7 linked regions of the Homo sapiens genome follow. The protein of the gene in region 2 purifies or fractionates together with the protein of the main gene of each other region. This does not show direct contact. Each region holds a gene or a part of one and is shown on either strand. Other genes may lie near its edges.

Region 1 (3,500 bases), on a different chromosome or scaffold from region 2:
TGCTTAATAGCTCTATTACTGACCCTTACCTAATTTTGCCTAATATCCTTTGTAATCTTATCTTTCCAATAATATACAACATATGAATTGAACAGAGTAGCTTATCACTAAATATCAAATAAAATAGAGTAATACTTTCAACTTAATCTGTTAGCATCTGAAATCACTAATACATTAAATTTCAAAAATGGTAACAAGTTTGACCAAATGCCATTAAAGGATTAAAACAACCCAGCTTAAGTTCAGTCTGTGAGTCAGTGTGCAATTGATTTATCTTCTTTGAATTAAAAGCCAAAAAAGCTTGAGGTGAGTTCTAGTCTTTGAATTCTCCTTTCTTGTGCCAGAAGCATAGCAGGTAAGCCAACATTTGAAGACTCTGTGAGTCCTAGATAACATAGGTTATTACTTCAGATTAACAGTCAGTACTAGGTGGGCATGGTGTGGGTGGTGGATTTTTAGTAATTTCTTTTCAGTAGCAAAAATGTTAGCATTGATTACTTCTGTTTTCATATGATTTCTCCACATTTCCCAAGGTCATGTTTCTTTCGTGCTTTGTGGTATATGCTTGAGACAGAAGTCTAAAGACCAAAATGCAGTTCCTCAGTATTTCAAGGGATCTTTGAGAGAGATTATTTTACCAAAACAGTGATCTGCATGCAGTTACCACAGTCACTCACCTGATAATCTTGGGAAGTCTTGGCCTGAGGATTTAATCCACTTGGTCTTGTCAAATCTACAAGTAACTCAGCAACATTTGTGATATCAATTTCAGCTAAAGGAGAAGATGCAGGGGCATTGGCCAGTGTTTGCAGGGTTGGAAGAAAAGCTTCTTCAAAGCATTCCTGATTAGTCCTATTGAGAAACAAATTCAAAGTATGTTGGCAGAACATTATTTGATGAGAGAAAAAGTATGAAATTCAAAACTACTATGTAGGAAATTCACTCATTAAGTGCATTTTCATCTAGGAAAGAGCCAAAAATTCAGATAGATAAAATCTGTATCGTTCTTGTCATTTCATCATTTATCTACTAAAGACAGAAAAAGTATCAACAACAAAATATCATTATAGATATAATTCATGGGGGACTTGAATTTGATGTCAAGTCAGATTTTTGATTTATCAGTATGACTCAATACCTGCTTGCATAAGCAAACACGGGGAAGAACACGCCTAGGCAATGTCGAAGTTGAACATCCTCTTCAGTCACAGGATTGTACCATAACAAAATAAGACGAGAAAGAATCCTGCTGCTGACCAAAAGCCCAGAGAACATCAGCTTGGCTAGTCCTTCTGCAGCTCCAGTCCTAAGTTCAGATACCTAACAAAGATGACATTCATTAGAAGAAATTTATTTGTATCTCCTTTTTAAGCCTCTCAATGTAGCCTGTCCTACAGTATTTTTACACGAACCATCCAAAAACCATTCGAGTTATTACAAATTCTTTAAAGGCAAATAAAAAGACTGTTTCTTCAAAGCTAGAATAACAATTTTAGACAAATCTAAAAGACTAGGAGACTAGACAAATGCTTAGTCTAGCCATGAAAAATTCAATTATCTTAAAACTTTTTAGAAGAACCAAAAGGCCTTTTATAACTGTTGGAAAAAAAGAGCAAAACATATATTTAAATGCTTAGGGTTTCTAAGACATAGAAAACCCTGGCCCCTGGTATTAGAGGAAGGTGCCTATCTATAAGCAAAAGCTCCATATGTAGGAGTGCAATTTGTCTGAATAATGGATAGAATGTGAACAGAAGGTGTTGAAGCAGAAGGCATTCCTAGAAAAAGTAAACAAAAGTCTAGAGAAGACAAAGGAAAAGACAACTGGATGTACACAGGCAAAACAATGAAGCTGGACCTTAGACCATATACAAATATTAACTGAAAATGCATCAACAGCCTAAATATAAAAGCTAAAGCCAGAAAACTCTCAGAAGAAAACAGGGATAAATCTTCATGACTTAGACTTAGCACTGGATTCTTAGATAGGACACCAAAAGCAGAAGCAACAAAAGAAAAAAATGAGTGTATCTCCAAAATTAAAAATGTTTAATACATCTAAGTATATTAACAAGAAAGTAAAAAGACAACCTGTAAAATAAAAGTTACAAATTATACCTGATAAGGATCTACTACCCAAACTATATAAAGAACTCTATAAAGACAACCAACCCAACTTAAAAATGGGCAAAGGACTTGAACAGACATTTATCCAAACAAAATATACAAATGGCCAAGAAGCAGATGAAAAGATACTCAACATCACTAGTCATTAAGGAAATGCAAATCAAAACCACAATGAAGTAGCACTTCATATATACTAGGATAGCTATAATGTTTTAAAAAATGGAACCTAAGTGTCAATAAGGATGTGGAGAAATGGAAAACCTTCTACACTGAAGATGGAAATTTAAAATGGTTCAATCACTGTGGAAAACAGTTTGTCAAGTTCCCAAAAAGTTAAATGACTGAGCAACACAATTCCTAGGTATACAGATACCCAAAAGAATTGAAACAGCTACTCAAACAAATACATATACATGCCATGTTCATAGTAAGCAGCACTATTCACAATAGCCAAAAGGTAGAAACAGCCCAACTGTCCTTCAATGGATGAATGCATAAACAAATCACCATATATACATAAAATGGAGTATTCGGCTACAAAAAGGAACGGAGTACTGATACAAGATACCATGTGGATGAATCTCGAAAATGTTATGCTAAATTTAAAAAGCTAAACAGAGGTCACATACTGTATGATTCCACTTACACAAAATATCCAGAACAGTTAAATCCATAGAAACAGACTGCGGATTGGTTGCTGTCAGGGCTGGCAGAAGGGGGAATGAGGAGCAACTGCTTAATGAGTAGTTTCCTTTTGGGATGATGACAATGTTTTAAATTAGATGATAAAGGTGGTAGTTGCCTTTCATTTTGAATGTACTAAATGCCAATGAATTGTTCACATTAACAGTATTAGTTTGGGCCAGGCACGAGGGCTCACACTTGTAATCCCAGCACTCTGGGAGGCTGAGGCAGGAGGATCACTTGAGGCCAGGAGTTCAAGACCAGCCTGGGCAACAGAGCGAGACCCTGTCTCTACAAAAAATTTAAAAATCAGCGGGCATGGTGGCACATGCCTGTCATTCCAGCTATTCAGGAGGATTGCTTGAACCCAGCAGGTGAGGGGTCAGTGGACTATGATCACGCCACTGCACTCCAGCCTGATGACAGAGCAAGACCCTATCTCAAAAAAATAAAATTAAGTTTTGTTATATCACTTCTAACTCAATGAAAAACTACAATCAGTATAAAAAATTTTTAATCAGTTGGTTTACATGTGTGCTACAAAAATAGTAGTTCAAGAGTACTTAAAAGAGATCCAATCCCATACCCTATCTTACATCTTCTACCCACCCAATATAAAATTATTCTAAACTATTTCTTAAAAGTCTTGGGGATAAATCTTAGAGTCTCTATATCACAAATACAACATA
Region 2 (3,500 bases):
CCTTGTGGTCACAGCCGGCTGCAGGGAAGCGAGTGACGGAAGGGGATAGAGAGGGACCCCAAGCTCCGATGCCTCCTGTGGGGAAGGCCCTTCCCTCCTGCCCCCCCTCCTTTCTTCCATCTCTTGTCCCACTTATGAACTGGATGGCAGGCAGGCATCGTTTCTTTTTCATGAGGTTACTGCGTCTGGGGAAAATCTAGCTGCCCGATTCCTACAAAAGCCTTGAGTGAGGCCTCACATGGCAGCACTCATGAAGCAGCCATCGCAGGCTCCCTGGACAACCCCCAGACCTTTGTAGGTGTTGGGCCACAGGGGTCATATCACCTGTGCCTCTCCATTTTTCTTTTCTTTCTTTCTTTTTTTTTTTTTTGAGATGGAGTCTCGCTCTGTTGCCCAGGCTGGAGTGCAGTGGTGTGATCTCGGCTCACTGCAACCTCCACCTCCCAGGTTTAAGTGATTCTCCTGCCTTAGCCTCCTCAGTATCTTGGATTACAGACGTGCGCCACCATCTCTGGCTAATTTTTGTATTTTTAGTAGAGACGGGGTTTCGCCATGTTGGCCAGGCTAGTCTCAAACTCCCGACCTCAGGAGATCTACCCACCTTGGCCTCCCAAAGTGCTGGGATTACAGGCGTGAGCCACTATGCCTGGCTAATTTTTGTATTTTTAGTAGAGACAGAGTTTCACCATGTTGGCCAGGCTGGTCTCGAACTCCTGGCCCCAAGTGATCCACCTGCCTAGGCCTTCCAAAGTGCTGGGATTACAGGCGTGAGCCACTGCACCCGGCTGACCTGTGCCCCTCCTTGAAGCTGTCATCCACTGATCTCCAGCAGCCTGGACAGTCACAGGGGACTTTGACACCTGACTCAGTTCTCCCCACCCCCACTCCTGCTACCCTCCCAGGTGAAGTCAACAGACATATAACGGTCCACCCAAGACGGCCTCTCGGTTCCTTGAGGGCTTTGTCATCATCCACTGTTTCTTCACATCACAAACACATCACCCCTCTGTGGCCACCTCCTGTTCCTTCGGGGTGCTCAGGACCTCACCTTCCTGATCATGGTCATTTGGCTTTATTAAAATTAAAAAACAAAAACAAAAATGGGTCCTCACTTTGCTACCCAGGCTGGAGTACAGTAGTGCGATCATAGCTCACCATAGCCTTGAGCTCCTAGGCTCAATTGATCCTCCCGCCTCAGCCTCCCAAGTAGCTGGGACTACAGGCATGCCACCTGGGTAATTTTTTTCATTTTTGCTTGTTGTAGAGATGGGGTCTCACTATGTTGCCCAGGCTGATGTCAAACTCCTGGATTCAAGCGATCCTCCTGCCTCAGCTTCCCAAAGTGCTAGGGTCACAGGCATGAGCCACTGTGCCTGGCTGGCCTCTTAATTTTAGAGAGACCTCCAGGGTCTTGATCTTTCTATTCTCTCCCACTATTTCCTCCTCGATTGACTTAACTGACTGCAGGGCTGACCACCCAGCCTGCTCCTCTGCACCCTGCGTGGCCCTGCATCCCCGGCTCTGCACAGCACTATCTTAGAAAACTCCACCTGTGGCTCCAGCCTCACCTGGGCCCCCAGACCACTTGATACTCTTTGGATTGGCCTTTACCAGCTCCATCTCTCACCTCCTTAGTAACTGCTGCAAACATCCAGCCCCCTCCTCAAGCCACTGTGTCAGCTCCCAGTGGCAGACCACCTCTCTCCTACCTCCTGACAAAGCCAGGGCCTTCCACCATGAATGGCTTCAACCTCTGGACTCCGACCTGCAAACCCACCTACCCTGCTACCCTGCTGCCCTGAAGCCTCAGAGCAAGTGTCCCTCCTCCCCGTCAGGATGGACTGCCCTTCTGGGAGGTGCAGCTCATTGCTGCCCACGCGTGGGAACCCTCACACCACAAATGATCCAGCCTCACGCTCTCACTCAGCTCTGCAGCCTCGGAACCTTCACACATCCTGAAAGAGCTCTCCCAGGCCCCTCCAGCTACAGCCCATCGCTCTCCTTTTGTTTCCAGCTAGCCTTCGAGAACACTCGCTATGGCCACACTCTCACGGCAGGTCTCCTCAATCCACGGCAATCTGACTTCTGCCTCTGAAAAGCATGGCTTCCCCAACTCAATTTCTTTTTGCGGGGGCGGGCGGGGTGGGGGGGGACAGGGTCTTGCTCTGTTGCCCAGGCTGGAGTGAAGTGGCGCGATCCTGGCTCACTGCAACCTCTGCCTCCCAGGTTCAAGCGATTCTTGTGCCTCAGCCTCCCAAGCAGTTGGGACTATAGGCTTGCGCCACCACGCCTGGCTAATTTTTTGTATTTTTAGTGGAGACGGGTGTTGCCATGTTGCCCAGGCTGGTCTTGAGCTCCTGAGCTCAGGCAATCTGCCCCCATCAGCTTCCCAAAGTGCTGGGATTACAGGCATGAGCCACCACGCCCTGCCCCGACTCAGATTTACAAGCTGATGATCATTATTCATGATGACATTATTGGACAGCTTTCACTGGGGGAAACAGGCGGCCAGGCACTATGACTGGTGGGGAGAAGGATGGGCAAGATACAGCACGAGGGCCCGGAAAACAGGGCCCTCTCAAGTCCCTGGTAGAGGCAGGTGAAGCTCCCGTCTACCCACACTTGAACCGTGAGCTGTCACCATTACCCATCGGTGGGTTCACACAGCCCCCTGCCCTCCCTCTTTGCGCTCTGGCCTTCCACGCCCCCTGTGTTCCTTGCACGCCCATGTCTCTCCCCAGCTAGGCTGCAATCTCCGTGGGAACAGAGGGGTTCCTGTCTTGAATCCCCTACAGATCTTTGCATAGTGCTGGGTCCTCCATAGGAATCAGGAAATGCTTACAGATCTGTAATTAACCTATCACCTGAGTAAGAAACCACACATGCTTCTAAGGTGAATCAGCAGATGGAAAGGTAAACAGGCCATCTTCTCCAGGAGCTTCACCCCTGTCCTGGCTATCTTGTGGATTCTGTTCTTTATCAAACCATCTTTTTACACAGGGGAGTACAGAGACAGAATGCAGTTTAGACAATATCAGTATAAGGTCCCCTCTAGCTAGTTCCATGACTCAGGAACTGTGTATTTGGGAAGCCTGAGGTCACAGGGTTGGAAGCCCTCGACTGTCCACTGGTTCACTGTTGAGGGCTTCGGTTCTGTTTCTGCTTGTGAGCAGCTCATCTGTTTAAACCTGGGTTGTCAACCTAACCAGGGTGGGAAGAGTCACTTGCCAAGCATGGTGCTAATGGCTCAGAGCCATGTCTATAAAGCTTAGTACCCTGCAAGGTAGGTATCATTTTTATTATTTTTTATTTTTTGAAACGGAGTCTTGCTCTGTTGCCCAGGCTGGAGTGCAATGGCATGATCTCGGCTCACTGCAACCTCCGCCTTCCAGGTTCAAGCAATTCTCCTGCCTCAACCTCCTGAGTAGCTGGGATTACAGGTGCGTCCCACCACGCCTGGCTAATTTTTTGTATTTCTAGTAGAGACGGGTTTTCATCAC
Region 3 (3,500 bases), on a different chromosome or scaffold from region 2:
CCAGGGCCTTAACTCTCTCAGCCGTAGCCCTAAGTCGTTTTTCCAATTTAGGAAGCTCACAACGCAGATCTGCATTGTCACGTACCAGCTATGGGGCAAGCCAAAGGGAAGAAGTGGAAAGGAAGGCAAGTGACCCAAGACGGTCACCCAGAGGAGCGTAGGGGACAGGGGTGAGGAGAGAGAATAAAGAAAAATCAGGAGTCAGAGAAGATGGAGACCATGTCATTTCCTCAAAAGGCCTCATTGCCTTTATGTAATGGACTGTTCTGTCCAGCTCATTCCTTCTCCCAGAGCGAAGGGTGGGTGGTCAGGCATTTAAAAGTTATATAATTTTCTAGGCAGTAAAACCTGCCATCTCCACTGCAGCCCAGAACTCTTGTGAGAGCGCCTTGTCCTGTCTCCATCTGGTTTCCCCCACATCTCCCAGCATGTGCCAGATCAATAGCCCCAGGGCGGCCATGGGGATGAGGGACCCGCTTCCCCAGAGAGGGCTTTGTGGGCATGCAAAGGGTGGGGCAGCAAGGGCACAGTAGCAGTTTGGTGGCTGTGGCATTGAGGAGAATCTGTGCATGGCAGGTGCAGTGCAGAGCAGGAGCAGAAGCTGGAATTCAGGAGCCCCTGACATACACATATAGACAGGCAGAGCCCGCCCCGTAGGAAGGAAAGAAAATGTTTGAGGTCTCACAAACATTTGCACTCATTACCTTCACATTCAAGGACTTCCTGGGTTATCCCTCCCCCAGTGAAATTAAGCTAGAGCATGGGAGCAACCACCCTGCAGCCCGAAAAGACTTCCTGATCTTTTTACAGGTTCCACACAATGACTGGGGGCACTATAGGTTGCAAAAGGAGCAGGGCCTTGGAAGACAGCGGGTAAATCAGCATAGCGGGGAACACTGGGGGCTCAAGGGGACAAGCTAGAAACCCTTCCATGCAGTTTCCATTTGGACAATTTATGGAGTATAAGCAATGTTTTGCTGTGACAATACTTTAGCTTAATTGATATAGGGCTATAGTCCTGGCTGTTAAGATTCTCTTAACTGAGAAGTTTTTATCTCCTTTTCCTTTTTACTCTTGTGTCTGCTGAGGTAGGAAATTGTAGTGAGTCCTCTATTTATCCTATAGGTGAGTCATTTTTGTTTTTTTGGGACTTTGAACAGAGGCAGAGGCTTCAGTGACGATAAAGGAAACAGTGTGTGGTTGTGTTTTTTCATGGAAATTTTTCTGGGGCTTGCTCCATAGAGCAGGGCTTTCCCATAGGCAGAGAGGCCCAGAGTAGCACACACATGTGTGTGTGTGTTCTAAGCAACATAATATGGATTTGGACAGAGAGGGAAAGTGAATGCGGGAATGAAAATCGAATGGCAGAATTGATTTCAAATGTTTCCTATCTGCCTTTCAACTTTTCTATAATTTTGTTACTCAGTTTCATAATAAAGGAAATAAAATCGTAGCAAAGCCCTCTGCAGGCCTAAATAAGATAAATAAACTCTGTACATTATCACTGGGCACAGGTTTAGGATTCATTAAGAAAAAAAAAAGTACTGAATATTTACTATATAAGCTGGGCATTATACTGGGAGGAAAAGAAGTTTAAGTGCTAGGCTAGTGAGAATGTAAGTTTAAATGGAATCTTAAGGTAGATTTGAAAGGAAAGGAATGAAGTATAGGTTAGGGTTTATTTTATGAATTAGTTAAAAGGACCAGTTGACAGCCTGCCGAGCCTGTCTTCAAGGCTCAGATATTTAGTGCTAGTGAGAGTGCCCCTACCCAGCATGCACCAAACATTTCCTGTCCTGACTCCTTTGGACTGCCCTTCTGCATCCCCAGCCCATACCTTTGAAACCCAGTCATCCACCTAAAGAACCGCAACAGCAAGGAGGGGGACAGAGAGGCAGCAACTTAATACACAGGAGTTTTGACTGGGGCCCCAACCAGGGGCTGGTTGGGCCATCTTAGGGACATCATTTTTTTTTAATTGAAACAGGGTCTCACTCTGTCACCTAGGCTGGAGTGCAGTGGCATGATCACAGCTCACTGCAGCCTCTACTTCCTGCGCTCAAGCAATTGCCCTACCTCAGCCTCCCAAGTAGCTGGGACTATGGGTGTGTGCCACCACATCCGGCTAATTTTTGTATTTTTTGTAGAGATGGGGTTTCGCCATGTTGCTTAGGCTGGTCTTGAACTCCTGTGCTCAAGTGATCCGCCCGCCTCGGCTTCCTGAAGCGCTGGGACTACAGGCATGCACCACTGTGCCTAGCCAGGGACATCATTTAATGTCCCTGCATGCCTGCCACAGACCTAGACAGATGGAGTTCTCTCCACGAAAGAAGCCCAACTCCCTTGCTTCTTCTCATCTCCCTGCCTTCCATCTCTGGGTAACGTCTGACCAGTCTCCCTCCTGTATAGTTACAGCCCATGCCTCTGTTAGTTTCAACCTCTCCCTCCAAGGTAGGCCTGGGGAATTCCACTTTGAGCAGAGGTGGGTTAGAAACTTTGAGAAGGGAATACAGGCATGAAACAAAGAACAAGGTACAAGTGGACCAAATATGGTATAAAGAAGGGATTAGTAGGGAAAGTAAAAGCGAACAGTAAGGAAAACATGCAACTAGATTTTCCTGAATCCAAGGGGCCTCTGAGGATTTGGTATGCTAGCTACCCGGCCTCAAAAATTCTCTTCACTCCTTCAGCAGACTCTTACCTGTTTGTGAACCTTTGTAAGCTGTTCCAGGTTGTTCTCAAGAAAGGAAATCTTCTGCTTTTGGGAGTGAATCCCCCCACTGTCTTCGGGCTCCATTTCTGCACTCTGAGAACAGATAGAAGGAAAGACGTGGCTGTCCTGAGGCCAAACAGGTCCCACCAAGACCAGGCCAAGCCAGCCCCATAGGGGCAACAGGGGCAGGAGAAACCTAAGGATAGGAGGAGGATGTGGGGGCTGACAAAACCCCAAGGACAGCACTCACTTTCTTGACTCGAGTCGTGACGTCTTGAACGAACAGCTTGCGAAGGTTGTGGAGGGTCTGGAGTTCCCGGGCCTGGAAAGAATGATGAAAAATTGGGAATAGCCAGATACCAGGTCTGTCCTATTCCTCCAGAATTATAGGTACCTCCAGTCTCTATAATCAAGTGAGTCACTTATCCTTTAGGAAAAAATGTGTCTTGATTACGCTACAGAATGGCTGCAAAAGGGCAGGAGGAATAGGGTTAGGAAGAAATGAAGCCTCCCCACTCCCCAGTCCTGTGAATTTGGCACAGAAGGGAACCACTCACAACTGTCTCCTCCAGACCCTTGAGGTCCTGCTTGGACTGCTCATGTCGCTCGTACAGAAATCTGTAGCAAGAGAAATAAGGGAAATGGAAAGATCCCTCAGGACTCTCCTTCCTCCTGCCTCTTCCTCTATTACTTTTATCTCCATTTAAGTATTACTATTATTGTTATTTTGTGAAACAGGGTCTCATTCTGTTACCTAGGCTAGATAGAGTACAGTGGCACAATCAGG
Region 4 (3,500 bases), on a different chromosome or scaffold from region 2:
TGCTCTGCTTAAGAGGAATTTAGAGTTCTGCAAATGTGGAAAGAGAGGCTGAATAGTGAGATAAGGGGGCGCTATTGGGGGATGTGGGGAGCCTGAAAAACAGAGGGCCTAACCACATTAGTGAGAGGCTAAGAACTTAAGGTCAAGGACAGCCCTGAGAAATTCCCAGAGGCAAGTATGACTGAGAGTCTGATTAGTGCAGAGATGTCTATTTTTAAATATCAGGGTTTTTGTTTGTTTGTTTTTTAGTATGCACTGGTGAAAAAAAAAACAACCTGTTTCTGGTAGCCCAAGCTTTGACAAAATGTCCCATGCACGCTATCTTCTAGGTATGCTTAGGGTAAAACAAGGAAAATGTGTTCTAAGTTCAAGTCATTTTGAGGTGAAGAGAAGAAAACAGCTGCAGAAGGTGAAATCTAAGCAGGAGTAGTATTCAGCGGAACAGAGAACTTAAAGCGGCCTCTTGACATGGTTGTGCATGCCTATAGTCCCAGCTAGGATCAAGGCTGAGGCAGGAGGATGGCTTGAGCCCAAGAATTTGAGACCAGCCTGCTCAACACAGCAAGACCCCATCCCTATTTAAAAATAAATAAATAAATGAGACTGTTCTGTTTGGATATTGTAAATATAGACTATTTGAAAAAAAGAATAAGAAGTAACCTTGTTATAAATCTCTGGAAGCTCAAAGAAAGCTTGGGAGTGTCCTGTATGGCATACCTACCTGGGATGGGGGCTCAGCCACTTTATTCTATTTTATTTATTTATTTATTTATTTATTTATTTATTTATTTGAGATGGAGTCTCACTCTGTCACCCAGGTTGGAGTGCAGTGGCGCAATCTTGGCCCACTGCAGCCTCCACCTCCTGGGTTCAAGGGATTCTCCTACCTCAGCCTCCTGAGTAGCTGTGATTACAGGCGCCCACCACCACGCCCAGCTAATTTTTGTATTTTTAGTAGAGATGGGGTTTTGCCATGTTGGCCAGGCTGGCCTTGAACTGCTGACCTCAGATGATCCACCCGCCTCAGCCTCCCAAAGTGCTGTGATTGCAGGTATGAGCCACCATGCCTGGCCTCAAGCCACTTAATTTTAAATCTTACAGGAAAGTAAGATCCACAAAGATGGAGAACATGATGAACACTCAGGTTGCAAATATCTTAGATGCCCATTTCTCAGCCTGAAATCTGTTTCATCCTTTGTCATTATAATTCTAAACATTTAAATGTTATACCTAAATAATTAAACTGTATTATCAATTCATTCATTCTCCTACCTTTCTTGTCAATGATAACAAAATCTCATCAGAGAACATCTTGAAGTCTGTGTATTTCCCTAAAGATCTCCGGTAAACATGGTTATTGAGAATCGTGTAATGAACAATGGCACCTCTCTCATCCCCAAACCTTTTGGGGACTTCTTTTAGCATTTGCTGGAGATTGATGCTGGGAAAGGAAGCAAAATCTTTTGCAATCTGTGGTTCCTTGGTTGGACAAGAAAGAGTCTTCTGCCAGGCCTGAGGATCTTCCGGACACTCACAGTACTCATGGTACACTGGTCCTAGGGAAGGAAAACATGAAAAAGGCCGCACTCCATTAGCAAGCACCACAACACAGGGAGTCACTTCTGTCTCTGCTTCTTGGTGAATTCTAAGATTATCCAGAGATAATCTGCCCTAGACAAATCAGTGGTGTAAGTGATTATGTTAGAGTCCTACACTTTTACTTTCCTTTTCACACCACCTTGGATAAACAGTTTAGTATATGCCCTCTCCCAATCTAACCTACTCTCGGTCACTTAGCTCATAAATTCATCTCTAATAAGGTATAAATGGCTGGCAAACATGAAACAACTTACCTTTTAGCAAGGAGAAAAAGAACGTATTAATTTTTAGACATTATGTAAACCAAAAATAAAATTCTAAGCCTCCTAGACCGTCCAAATGGATCCCTCCTTTTGGCCAAGGGCATTCCAAAGTTAATCTGAAAAACTAGTTCGGCCACGAAGGGAAAGGGGAACCAGGCATGCCTCATTATACCCTCCTCCCTTTTGGAATTCAGGCCTAGCTGACCAGCATTAACATCAACACAAACTTTGTTGAACTGACTCTTTAAGTCTGATAAGAAACATTTGCAATCTCCTCTGTCGCCTGCTACCTGGAAGCCTCATCTGCATGATAAAATCTTGGTTTCCACAAACCCTTATCATAAGCCCAGACATTCCTTTCTATTGATTCTAAGTCTTTACACAATAACTTAATTCTTTCAACCAACTGCCAATCAGAAAACCTCTGAATCTACCTATGACCTGGAAGCTACCCCCAACCCCTCCCAACCACCCCCACCCCTTCCAGTTGTCCCTCCTTTCCAAACCAAACCAATGTACATCTTAAATGTATTGATTAATGTCTTATGTCTTACTAAAATGTATAAAACCAAGTTGTAGCCTGATCACCTTGAGCACAGGTTCTCAGGATGTCCTGAGGGTTGTGTCATGGGCCATTGGTCATTGAGTCTGAGAGATGGGGGAACAATAAGGTAAGCCCTACAATTCCTACAGCTTACTGCTTAAGGGAGCTTCGAGGCTGTAGTGCAGGGAGGGAAACTGTAGGCAAAAACAGGTAGTCTCACTGAATTGAATATTTGGCTCAGAATAAAGCTCTTCAAATATTTTAGAGTTGGACTCTCTTCTTTTTTCTTTCTTTCTTTTATTTTTGTTTTTTGGTGGCAGGGGGACAGAGTCTCACACTGGCTGAGACTCTGGCAGAGTCGCCCAGGCTGGAGTGTAGTGGCGTGATCTCGGCTCACTGCAACCTCCTCCTCCCATGCTCAAGTGATTCTCCTGCCTCAGCCTCCCGAGTAACTGGGATTACAGGTGTGCACCACCATGTTTGGCTAATTTTTGTATTTTTAGTAGAGACGGGGTTTCACCATGTTGGCCAGGCTGGTCTCAAACTTCTGACCTCAGGTGATCCACCTGCCTCGGCCTCCCAAAGTGCTGGGATTACAGGCGTGAGCCACCATGCCTGGCCATAAGTTTGACTCTTTTCATTGACAACAAGTAACAGGGACTGATGTACCACCCCACCTGAAACAACCAGAAAACACTCCCACAAAACATATGAAACAATAGTTTTTTGTTGTTTTTGTTGTTGTTTTTTTGAGATGGAGTCTCACTGTGTTGCCTAGGCTGGAGTGCAGTGGTGTGATCTCAGCTCACTGCAACCTCCGCCTCCTGGGTTCAAGTGATTCTCCTGCCTCAGCCTCCTGAATAGCTAGGATTACAGGCACTCACCACCACGCCCAACTAATTTTTTGTATTTTTAGTAGAGACGGAGTTTTGCCATATTGGCCAGGTTGGTCTCGAACTCCTGACCTCAAGTGATCCACCTGCTTCGGTCTCCCAAAGTGCTGGGATTACAGGCGTGAGTCACCGCACCTGGCCTTAAACAATAGTTTTTAAGGCACTAGGTATTAGGCAATGAAGGACAGTGAGTCTGAGAGA
Region 5 (3,500 bases), on a different chromosome or scaffold from region 2:
CCCTATGTATCAAGGTATTCTAAGACTACCTTCAGGGACCATTTGTATAGTTCATTACTAGAAGTTTCTCTGAACATGTAGAACACTGAAAAAAGTATTTACTTTTTTTTTTTTTTTTTTTTTTTGAGACAGAGTTTCACTCTTATTGCCCAGGCTGGAGTGCAATGGCGTGATCTCGGCTTACTGCAAACTCCGCCTCCAGGTTCAAGCAATCTCCTGCCTCAGCCTCCCGAGTAGGTGGGATTACAGGCATGCGCCACCACGCCCGGCTAATTTTGTATTTTTAGTAGAGATGAGGTTTCTCCATGTTGGTCAGGTTGGTCTTGAACTCCTGACCTCAGGTGATCCTCCCACCTCGGCCTCCCAAAGTGCTGGGATTACAGGCGTGAGCCACCATGCCTGGCCAAAATAAAAGGTATTTTAGGCTGGGTGCGGTGGCTCACACCTGTAATCCTCGCACTTTGGGAGGCCAAGGCGGGTGGATCACCTGAGGTCAGGAGTTCGAGACCAGCCTGGCCAACATGGCGAAACCCCGTCTCTACTAAAAATACAAACATTAGGTGGGCGTGGTGGCAGCCAACTGTAATCCCAACTACTCGGGAGGCTGAGGTAGGAGAATCACATAAACCCAGGGTGTGGGAGGAGGTTGCAGTGAACCGAAATTGTGCCATTGCACTCCAGCCTGGGCGACAGAGCAAGACTCTGTCTCAGGAAAAATAAAAAAGTATTCTACCCCAGAATCCACCCTGGAACCTTGGAGAATTGGTGTAAAAGGGACAAATGACTGAGCCAGTTGGAGAACCAGTGGCTTGAGGGAGCCTTAGTGGTAGACACAGTGATTTTGGAGCCTCTTTGGGTCTAACCTTGGAAAGTAAAATCTACCAAGTTATGATCTGCTTTGTATGCTAGAATATTAAAAATTTATTTGTGGAAACATCCAAATTATTTTCTAAGAGACTAGCATGTAACAATTGAAGTCAAAGAAGGGCTGTCTGCTGCTGGCAAAATCCAGGAAACCCTTCATTCTCTGGGTGATTTAGATTCAGGTCCATTGCCACAGCCTGTTGGCAAACTGGCTGCGATCTAACTCTGGTTTGGATTGTCAGGTAGCAGTGTCTAGGTACTGGAAAGAAGTTAAAGCAAAGTTTATTTTTCCTTTGTACAAAGGTTAAAAACTCTCACTCAACATCTTATTTTGATATTTGGGTTTTTACCATAGGAGTATCCAACCCTTACAACCTTCTTCGAAGGAGAAATAATCAGCAAAAAACACCCTTTCTTAACTCGCAAGTGGGATGCAGATGAAGATGTTGATCGGAAACACTGGGTGAGTAAATCTGATCTGTGCTGGGTCATCTAGGGGCTGCTAGAGAATTGAAGAAATGCTGGGAGCCAGAGACCTTGTCCCTTATTGAGGATTACTGGGGCTTTGCAACCAAGTAAAAGGTTGCACTGCACACAGACCTCAGTTGTTCCATCTTCCTTATGAGGACAGTTTAAATACGATCTGACCTGCTGCTTAAATAGCAAATGGTTGTCTGATGATAGCAACCCCAGAGTTCCAGCCAGAACTCTGCTCAGCTATCAGAATCTTAACAGTGTCCCCCCATCCTTCCCACCTGTTTGTCCATCTTCTGTCCACTGTTCCTTTCAAATCACCTCTGCTTGGGGAAAACCCTGTGAAACATGCAATGATGACCTCCGGCTTCGGGGCTGGCATGAGATGGAGATGATGTTGTGGGAATCTGCCTGCCCACTGGCTTATCAGGGCAGAGCCACATCATTTCTTTTTATCCTGGCTGCTGACAGACAAGTATAGTCTTGTCTTAAGTACACCACTATAAATCCTGCTGCCCCCCTTTTTAACTGTCAAGTGTAGAGCATTCTCACTCAGCAGTAGTGAATGCTTCAAGACAGTTAGTGTCCTGGGATCTTTTCATTTGTTGTCATATAAGTACCATGTCTTCAAAAATCAGTGTCTCGGCTGGGCGCGTTGGCTTGCGCCTGTAATCCCAGCACTTTGGGAGGCCGAGGCGGGCGGATCACCAGGTCAGGAGATTGAGACCATCCTGGCTAACACGGTGAAACCTCGTCTCTACCAAAAATACAAAAAATTAGCTGGGCGTGGTGGTGGGCACCCGTAGTCCCAGCTACTCTGGAGGCTGAGGCAGGAGAATGGCGTGAACCCAGGAGGCGGAGCTTGCAGTGAGCCGAGATTGTGCCACTGCGCTCCAGCCTGAGCAACAGAGTGAGACTCCGTCTCAAAAAAAAAAAAAAAAAAATCATTTTCTCAACCTAATAGCCTTTTGCTTTAGTTGACCATGGTGATGGTGAATTTTTGTTTAACATTGAAGAAGTTCAATGGGTTTACCCTCCATAAACCAACCAGAAATGGCTGTGTCAGTAGCAAAGATTCTAGAACTCGTTCTTCCCATTGCCTCTCACACCTGGCTATCTAAACTCTCCCCTGGTTCTGGCACAGCAGTCTGTGGAGAGAACTCCCGCAGACCCTTGTCTTGAGTTCACCTCACTAGAGATCAGTTGCTTTGCTTACTAATGTTTTTTATTTGTTTATTTTATTTAAAAAAAATTTTTTTTAGAGTTGGGGTCTTGCTCTGTCGTCTATGCTGGAGTGCAGTGGCATGATTATAGCTCACTATAGCCTCAACCTCCTGGGCTCAAGTAATCCTCCCACCTCCGCGCCCCAAGTAGCTAGAACTACAGGCACGTGCCACCACACTGAGCTCATTTTCTTTTATTTTTGTAGAGACAGAGTCTCCCTATGTTACCCAGGCTGGTCTTGAACTCATGATCTTAAGTGATCCTCTTGCCTTGTCCTCCCAAAGTGCTGGGATTATAGGTGTGAGCCACTGACCCAACCTGTTTTTTTGGTTTTTCTTTTATGGGGGTTTTTGTTTTGTTTTGTTCTGTTTTGTTTGGTTTGGTTTTGAGACAGAGTCTCAGTCTGTCACCCAGGCTGGAGTGCAGTGGCGTAATCTCGGCTCACTGCAACCTCTGCTCACTGCAACCTCCGCCTCCCAGATTCAAGTGATTCTCATCTCTCAGCCTCTCAAGTAGCTGGGATTACAGACGTGCACCACCGTGCCTGGCTAATTTTTGTATTTTTAGTAGAGACAAGGTTTCGCCATGTTGGCCAGGCTGGTCTTGAACTCCAGGCCTCAAGTAATCCTCCTGCCTTGGCCTCCCAAAGTGCTGGGATTACAGGCGTGAGCCACCATGCCCAGCCCCAAGCTGTTTTTTACTTGAGTAAAAAAAGGAGATCTATCAAATACTGAGGTTCAGTTAAATTTAAATTTAAACTTGAGCTTTTTAAAGCGTTTTTTGAATTCTATACATTTTGATTGTTGTAGCAAATGGACACTAAAAACTAGACAGTCATTTGTGTCTCTCTGTGATACAAGAGAATGCACAAGACCTGAGTATCCAGAAGGTTGGGGGAGCCCAAGTGGTGTATGAAGGTGCTGGCCACCAGCAGGTGG
Region 6 (2,216 bases), on a different chromosome or scaffold from region 2:
TTTTTTTTGAGACAGCCTTACTCTGTCTCCCAGGCTGGAGTGCTGTGGCACAGTCTCGGCTCACTGCCGCCTCCGCCTCCCGGGTTCAAGCAATTCTCCTGCCTCAGCCTCCTGAGTAGCTAGAACTATAGGTGCGTGCCACCATGTACCATGCCCAGCTAATTTTTGTATTTTTAGTAGAGATGGGGTTTCACCATGTTGGCCAGGCTGGTCTTGAATTCCTGACCTTGCGATCTGCCCGCCTTGGCCTTCCAAAGTGCTGGGATTATAGGCGTGGGCCACCGTGCCCGGCGGCCATCTTCCTTCTACTTAAGAGTTTCTGTTCCCAGGCCTAGTAAGCATCTCATAGACATCAAACAAGTCACAGGAGTCTTCAGCTTGTCATTGGAATTGTAGGTGTGGATATGGCCTCCTGGAAGGAGTACAGAATCAGTACTACCCAGAGGCCAAAGGTACAGTCATGTCCTTAGTCCCAAAAGGCTCAGACACATCCCAGGCCCTTTCCACACACTTAAACAGCTGATTTATTTTTTCTCTTTATTGTTACATACAATGTATAAACACATAAAACAGAAAACAGTAGGGATCCTCTAGGATCTCTAGGGAGACAGTAAAGTAGAAAGAGGTCTCAGAAACATTTTTTTAAAGTACAAGACATTCAGTGCTCGGCCCAAAGGCGTAGAAGGTTTAGAGCCAGCAGATAGCTGTACTAAAGGCTCCGTCTCTCTCCCCAGAGCCAGGACAACCCCAGGGAGCTCTCCATTAGCAGCCAGTCCACGCAGGCAGGATGCTGCGGAGAAAGCTCTATGCTGAGAACATTCCCCTTGATGGAAAGAAGGGCAACACAAAAGGGTAACTAAGAGCTCCTTCCTCTCGTGAGGGCGACAACTGAGGAACAGAAAAGGAGTGTCCCATGTCACTCTGACCCCCTCCCCAGCTGCCCTGGGCCCAGATGCCCCCATACTTGGCATTTACCAGAACCTGTCCCAGCTCAGACCCTGCCTAGACCCACCAGGTACCCAAAGTTCTCTGGGGAGGGCCAGGGAAGAGGCTGGGTGTCAAACCAAACAGATTTTTATTTGCAGTCGTCACTGGGGCCGTTTCTTGCTGCTTATTTGTCTGCTAGCCTGCTCTTCCAGCTGCATGGCCAGGCGCAAGGCCTTGATGACATCTGGAAGAAAGGGTAGCGGTACATATGGGGTTAGTGAGAGTCTGAGGAGCCCCCATTCACTCAGGGCAGAGCTGCCATCACCTGCAGCTGCCCAAGAGCCAGCAGAGGCCACCATCGTCCACCTGCACCCCATCCAGCCACACCCACCTCGCAGGGCTGAGAAATGCTTGGCTTGCTGGGCCAGAGCAGATTCCGCTTTGTTCACAAAGGTCTCCAGGTCATAGTCTGGCTGCTCGGTCATCTCAGAGAGCTCAAGCCAGTCTGGTCCTTGCTACAACACAGGGAGGACCTTGTCAGTTCAATAACCATTTAGCAAATCATTCCTGGGGTCCTACCAACTGCAATGCAGACACCTGAGTAAGATGCTTTACCTCTGGTCCCTGACCCATACCCTGGCTGTTCACCCTCTCCCCAAGGAAATCCTTAGCTTGAATTCACCCTCTTCCTACCCCAAGCTTGTTTTTTTCGTTTTCTTTGTTTCTTTTTTGAGACAGTTTCACTCTTGTTGCCCAGGCTGGAGTGCAATGGCGTGATCTCGGCTCACCATAGCCTCCACCCCCCGAGTTTAAGGGATTCTCCTGCTTCAGCCTCCCAAGTAGCTGGGATTACAGGCAAGTGCTACCACGCCCAGCTAATTTTGTATTTTTAGTAGAGACGGGGTTTCTCCATGTTGGCCAGGCTGATCTCGAACTCTCGACCTCAGGTGATCCGCAGGCCTCGGCCTCTCAAAGTGCTGGGATTACAGGCTTGAGCCACCACTTCCGGCCTCCTATCCCAAGCTTATCCCCATCTCTTATGTCAAATGAATAACATCATTGGTCCTGATGCCCAAGCTAGAAATTTGAGTGATTTTATTTTTATTGTTTTTTGAGATGGAGTCTCACTCTGTCACCCAGGCTGGAGTGAAGTGGTGTGCGATCCTGGCTCACTGCAACCTCCGCCTCCCAGGTTTAAGTGATTCTCCTGTCTCAGCCTCCCGAGTAGCTGGGACTACAGGCACACACCACCATAGCCAGCTAATTTATTTATTTATTTATTTTTTCTT
Region 7 (2,199 bases), on a different chromosome or scaffold from region 2:
CGGTGCCAACATGATGCACAAAGAAAATGCTTAGTGGAGTTTTGTGGAATTTGTACTCTTGTATTAGGGATGGTGAACTGGTAAGTATGATGCAAATATTCTGAAATCTGAACAAATCCAAAATCCTGAACACTTCTGGTCCCAAGTATTTTAGATAAGAGATACTCTATGTGAGAACAAGACAGCAGGTGGTTAAAGGAATTTCCACACTTAGGTTGCTTTCAAGAGAGACAAAAGTATTAACAGGATCTTAATCTGCCTCAGATTTACTGGGGAGCAAATGCATTCATATTTGAGGATTTCTAAAATGTTTAATTTGCCTCTTAAAAATGTTTTTAGTTAGCACCAAAAAAGACAGACCAGGAAAGAGTATGTGATTAATACATTCAGTAAATACAAGATGACTTTTCCTTGTCCTGACATTTATTTTTAAATGGTATTGGATAAATAACATAAGTAGTTATTGTAAATAAAATCTGAAAGAAGCAGAGGAAGCATGATGTTTCTGAATCCTTTTATTTTTTAAAGGACTTTTAAAATTTGAAACTACAAAACGGATTTCATACATTCTGCCATAAATAAAAACAAACAATAAGGCAGGACTCTACATAAGCAAACCAAGAACAATTGTTTTCAGAAAATGTGATAAAATGCTTTACAATCATAAGCCATCCAGTTTTTAAAATAAAACTGTTGAAAAACTCACAAATCTTCAAGCGGCACATACAAGACACCCTTGAAGAGGGAACAAAATGTGGTTCTGCCACTTTGTACTGTTCTCACATTTTTGAAAACCTAATTTTGCTTAGAGCATAGGTCTGTTCCGTATTCTAAAATTCACACAGGTTGGTTTGTTTTTTCTCAAGAACCATGTGATAGAGGCACCAATGACAATACAACTTTGTTTCCAAGAACCTTGTAACAAAGCGTTGTCTCTTTTAAACATACCACTTGAGGCAAAAGGAATCCTGGACAGGAGTTTTCTGCAGAGGCGTTTAAAACCCTACCGAATCCGCTTCTGCTGCCGTGCTCTGTAAATGTCATGAACAGGGGGGACAACGGCTCCCTTTTCTTCATCTTCATCTGAATCCTCGTTGGGCCTTTTGACGGCCTTGGTGAGTACTGCATTACTTTCCACGGGGCCGTTGCCTTCTACAGCTAGCTCTGGGGCCCCACCAGTAATGATCCTCACAGCTTCCTCAACAGCTATTAAAACAAAACAACAAAACGTAAAAACATATTCCACTATGAAAGGGTATGTATGTTCAACTGTGGATACTTTATTTCATAGCCTACTATTTTAGCAAAACATGGGATAGTACTACTGATACTAAATAATTAAAGAAAAAGACAAAAGCTGCTGTTAAAACTAATAATTTTCATAAGCCAAGCCTGATAGTGCATGTTCACATGAATAGAAAAGATAAAGTTTTATGACATTTTACTTAGTGGAATTCAATGTGAATAAGCCTTTCTCTGCCAAAGAGGGTTTGGGTAACTCCTGGGTTTCACTGCACTTCAAATTGGCTGGCTGGTTTCGAAAACTTCAGTGGCAGAGAATAATAATCTCTACTGCCTATGAGACAACAACGTGGAATGACACTCTGAAATGGAGCTTCTGTTACTTACTATTTGGTATCTTGCATCTTCGGAAAATTTCCATCAGTTCATCCACTTGTACAAAAGGACCCTATTTTTGACATGAATAAATTTTAATCCCAGTAATCTGACAAGTTAAAGTAGTAGTAACTTTATACACAATTACTATGACCCACAGAGCCAGTATCTACCATGAAAATAAGTGAACAAACCTGGAAACAGATAGGAGGAGGGAGAAGTTTCATTAAAACAACAGCTGCAGGAGGGACTGGGAACACTCCACCAGGTACAGGGTGTAAACCTGGAGCTGTGAGAAAAAGAAAAGTATGAATCAAGTGGAATGGAAGAATTTCTACACAGAGCTAAAATCAAGTGACTTGCACATAAAGATCTTCCATGTCTGCTGCTTTGTTCTGGACACTGAAAATACTTCTAGGGCTTTACCAAACCAAAGTGGGTGAGACAGCAGTCTCAATGCCGTGGCCACTGGGAGGCAGAGAAGTAGACAAGTGACTTTGTGTAAGACAACCAGGGACTGAACTAAAGTCAGTTTTTGTCAAAGAGTGTTTCTGAGTTACACAAGTCATTTGTTTAGCAATC

The links.
Region 1: the proteins of BMP1 (region 2) and NCAPG purify together in Homo sapiens (affinity purification with mass spectrometry; 2 studies listed by BioGRID and IntAct, with this or other methods). This does not show direct contact.
Region 3: the proteins of BMP1 (region 2) and KIF5A purify together in Homo sapiens (affinity purification with mass spectrometry; 2 studies listed by BioGRID and IntAct, with this or other methods). This does not show direct contact.
Region 4: the proteins of BMP1 (region 2) and POGLUT3 purify together in Homo sapiens (affinity purification with mass spectrometry; 2 studies listed by BioGRID and IntAct, with this or other methods). This does not show direct contact.
Region 5: the proteins of BMP1 (region 2) and GID4 purify together in Homo sapiens (affinity purification with mass spectrometry; 2 studies listed by BioGRID and IntAct, with this or other methods). This does not show direct contact.
Region 6: the proteins of BMP1 (region 2) and KIF2C purify together in Homo sapiens (affinity purification with mass spectrometry; 2 studies listed by BioGRID and IntAct, with this or other methods). This does not show direct contact.
Region 7: the proteins of BMP1 (region 2) and CSTF3 purify together in Homo sapiens (affinity purification with mass spectrometry; 2 studies listed by BioGRID and IntAct, with this or other methods). This does not show direct contact.

Annotation. Positions count from the first base shown.
Region 1 is NC_000004.12:17,834,979-17,838,478, reverse strand, and holds part of NCAPG (condensin complex subunit 3), read right to left. Parts: intron 1,321-3,500; coding exon 1,139-1,320; intron 853-1,138; coding exon 678-852; intron 1-677. UniProt on the Homo sapiens protein: Regulatory subunit of the condensin complex, a complex required for conversion of interphase chromatin into mitotic-like condense chromosomes.
Region 2 is NC_000008.11:22,203,372-22,206,871, reverse strand, and holds part of BMP1 (bone morphogenetic protein 1 isoform 3 precursor), read right to left. Parts: intron 19-3,500; coding exon 1-18. UniProt on the Homo sapiens protein: Metalloprotease that plays key roles in regulating the formation of the extracellular matrix (ECM) via processing of various precursor proteins into mature functional enzymes or structural proteins.
Region 3 is NC_000012.12:57,577,544-57,581,043, reverse strand, and holds part of KIF5A (kinesin heavy chain isoform 5A), read right to left. Parts: intron 3,332-3,500; coding exon 3,271-3,331; intron 3,036-3,270; coding exon 2,964-3,035; intron 2,807-2,963; coding exon 2,702-2,806; intron 89-2,701; coding exon 1-88. UniProt on the Homo sapiens protein: Microtubule-dependent motor required for slow axonal transport of neurofilament proteins (NFH, NFM and NFL). Can induce formation of neurite-like membrane protrusions in non-neuronal cells in a ZFYVE27-dependent manner.
Region 4 is NC_000011.10:108,484,885-108,488,384, forward strand, and holds part of POGLUT3 (protein O-glucosyltransferase 3 isoform 1 precursor), read right to left. Parts: intron 1,557-3,500; coding exon 1,273-1,556; intron 1-1,272. UniProt on the Homo sapiens protein: Protein glucosyltransferase that catalyzes the transfer of glucose from UDP-glucose to a serine residue within the consensus sequence peptide C-X-N-T-X-G-S-F-X-C. Can also catalyze the transfer of xylose from UDP-xylose but less efficiently.
Region 5 is NC_000017.11:18,052,908-18,056,407, forward strand, and holds part of GID4 (glucose-induced degradation protein 4 homolog), read left to right. Parts: intron 1-1,219; coding exon 1,220-1,327; intron 1,328-3,500.
Region 6 is NC_000001.11:44,766,052-44,768,267, reverse strand, and holds the end of KIF2C (kinesin-like protein KIF2C), read right to left. Parts: intron 1,443-2,216; coding exon 1,319-1,442; intron 1,172-1,318; coding exon 1,089-1,171; 3' UTR 501-1,088; downstream 1-500. UniProt on the Homo sapiens protein: In complex with KIF18B, constitutes the major microtubule plus-end depolymerizing activity in mitotic cells. Regulates the turnover of microtubules at the kinetochore and functions in chromosome segregation during mitosis.
Region 7 is NC_000011.10:33,084,084-33,086,282, forward strand, and holds the end of CSTF3 (cleavage stimulation factor subunit 3), read right to left. Parts: intron 1,907-2,199; coding exon 1,812-1,906; intron 1,691-1,811; coding exon 1,630-1,690; intron 1,207-1,629; coding exon 1,004-1,206; 3' UTR 501-1,003; downstream 1-500. UniProt on the Homo sapiens protein: One of the multiple factors required for polyadenylation and 3'-end cleavage of mammalian pre-mRNAs.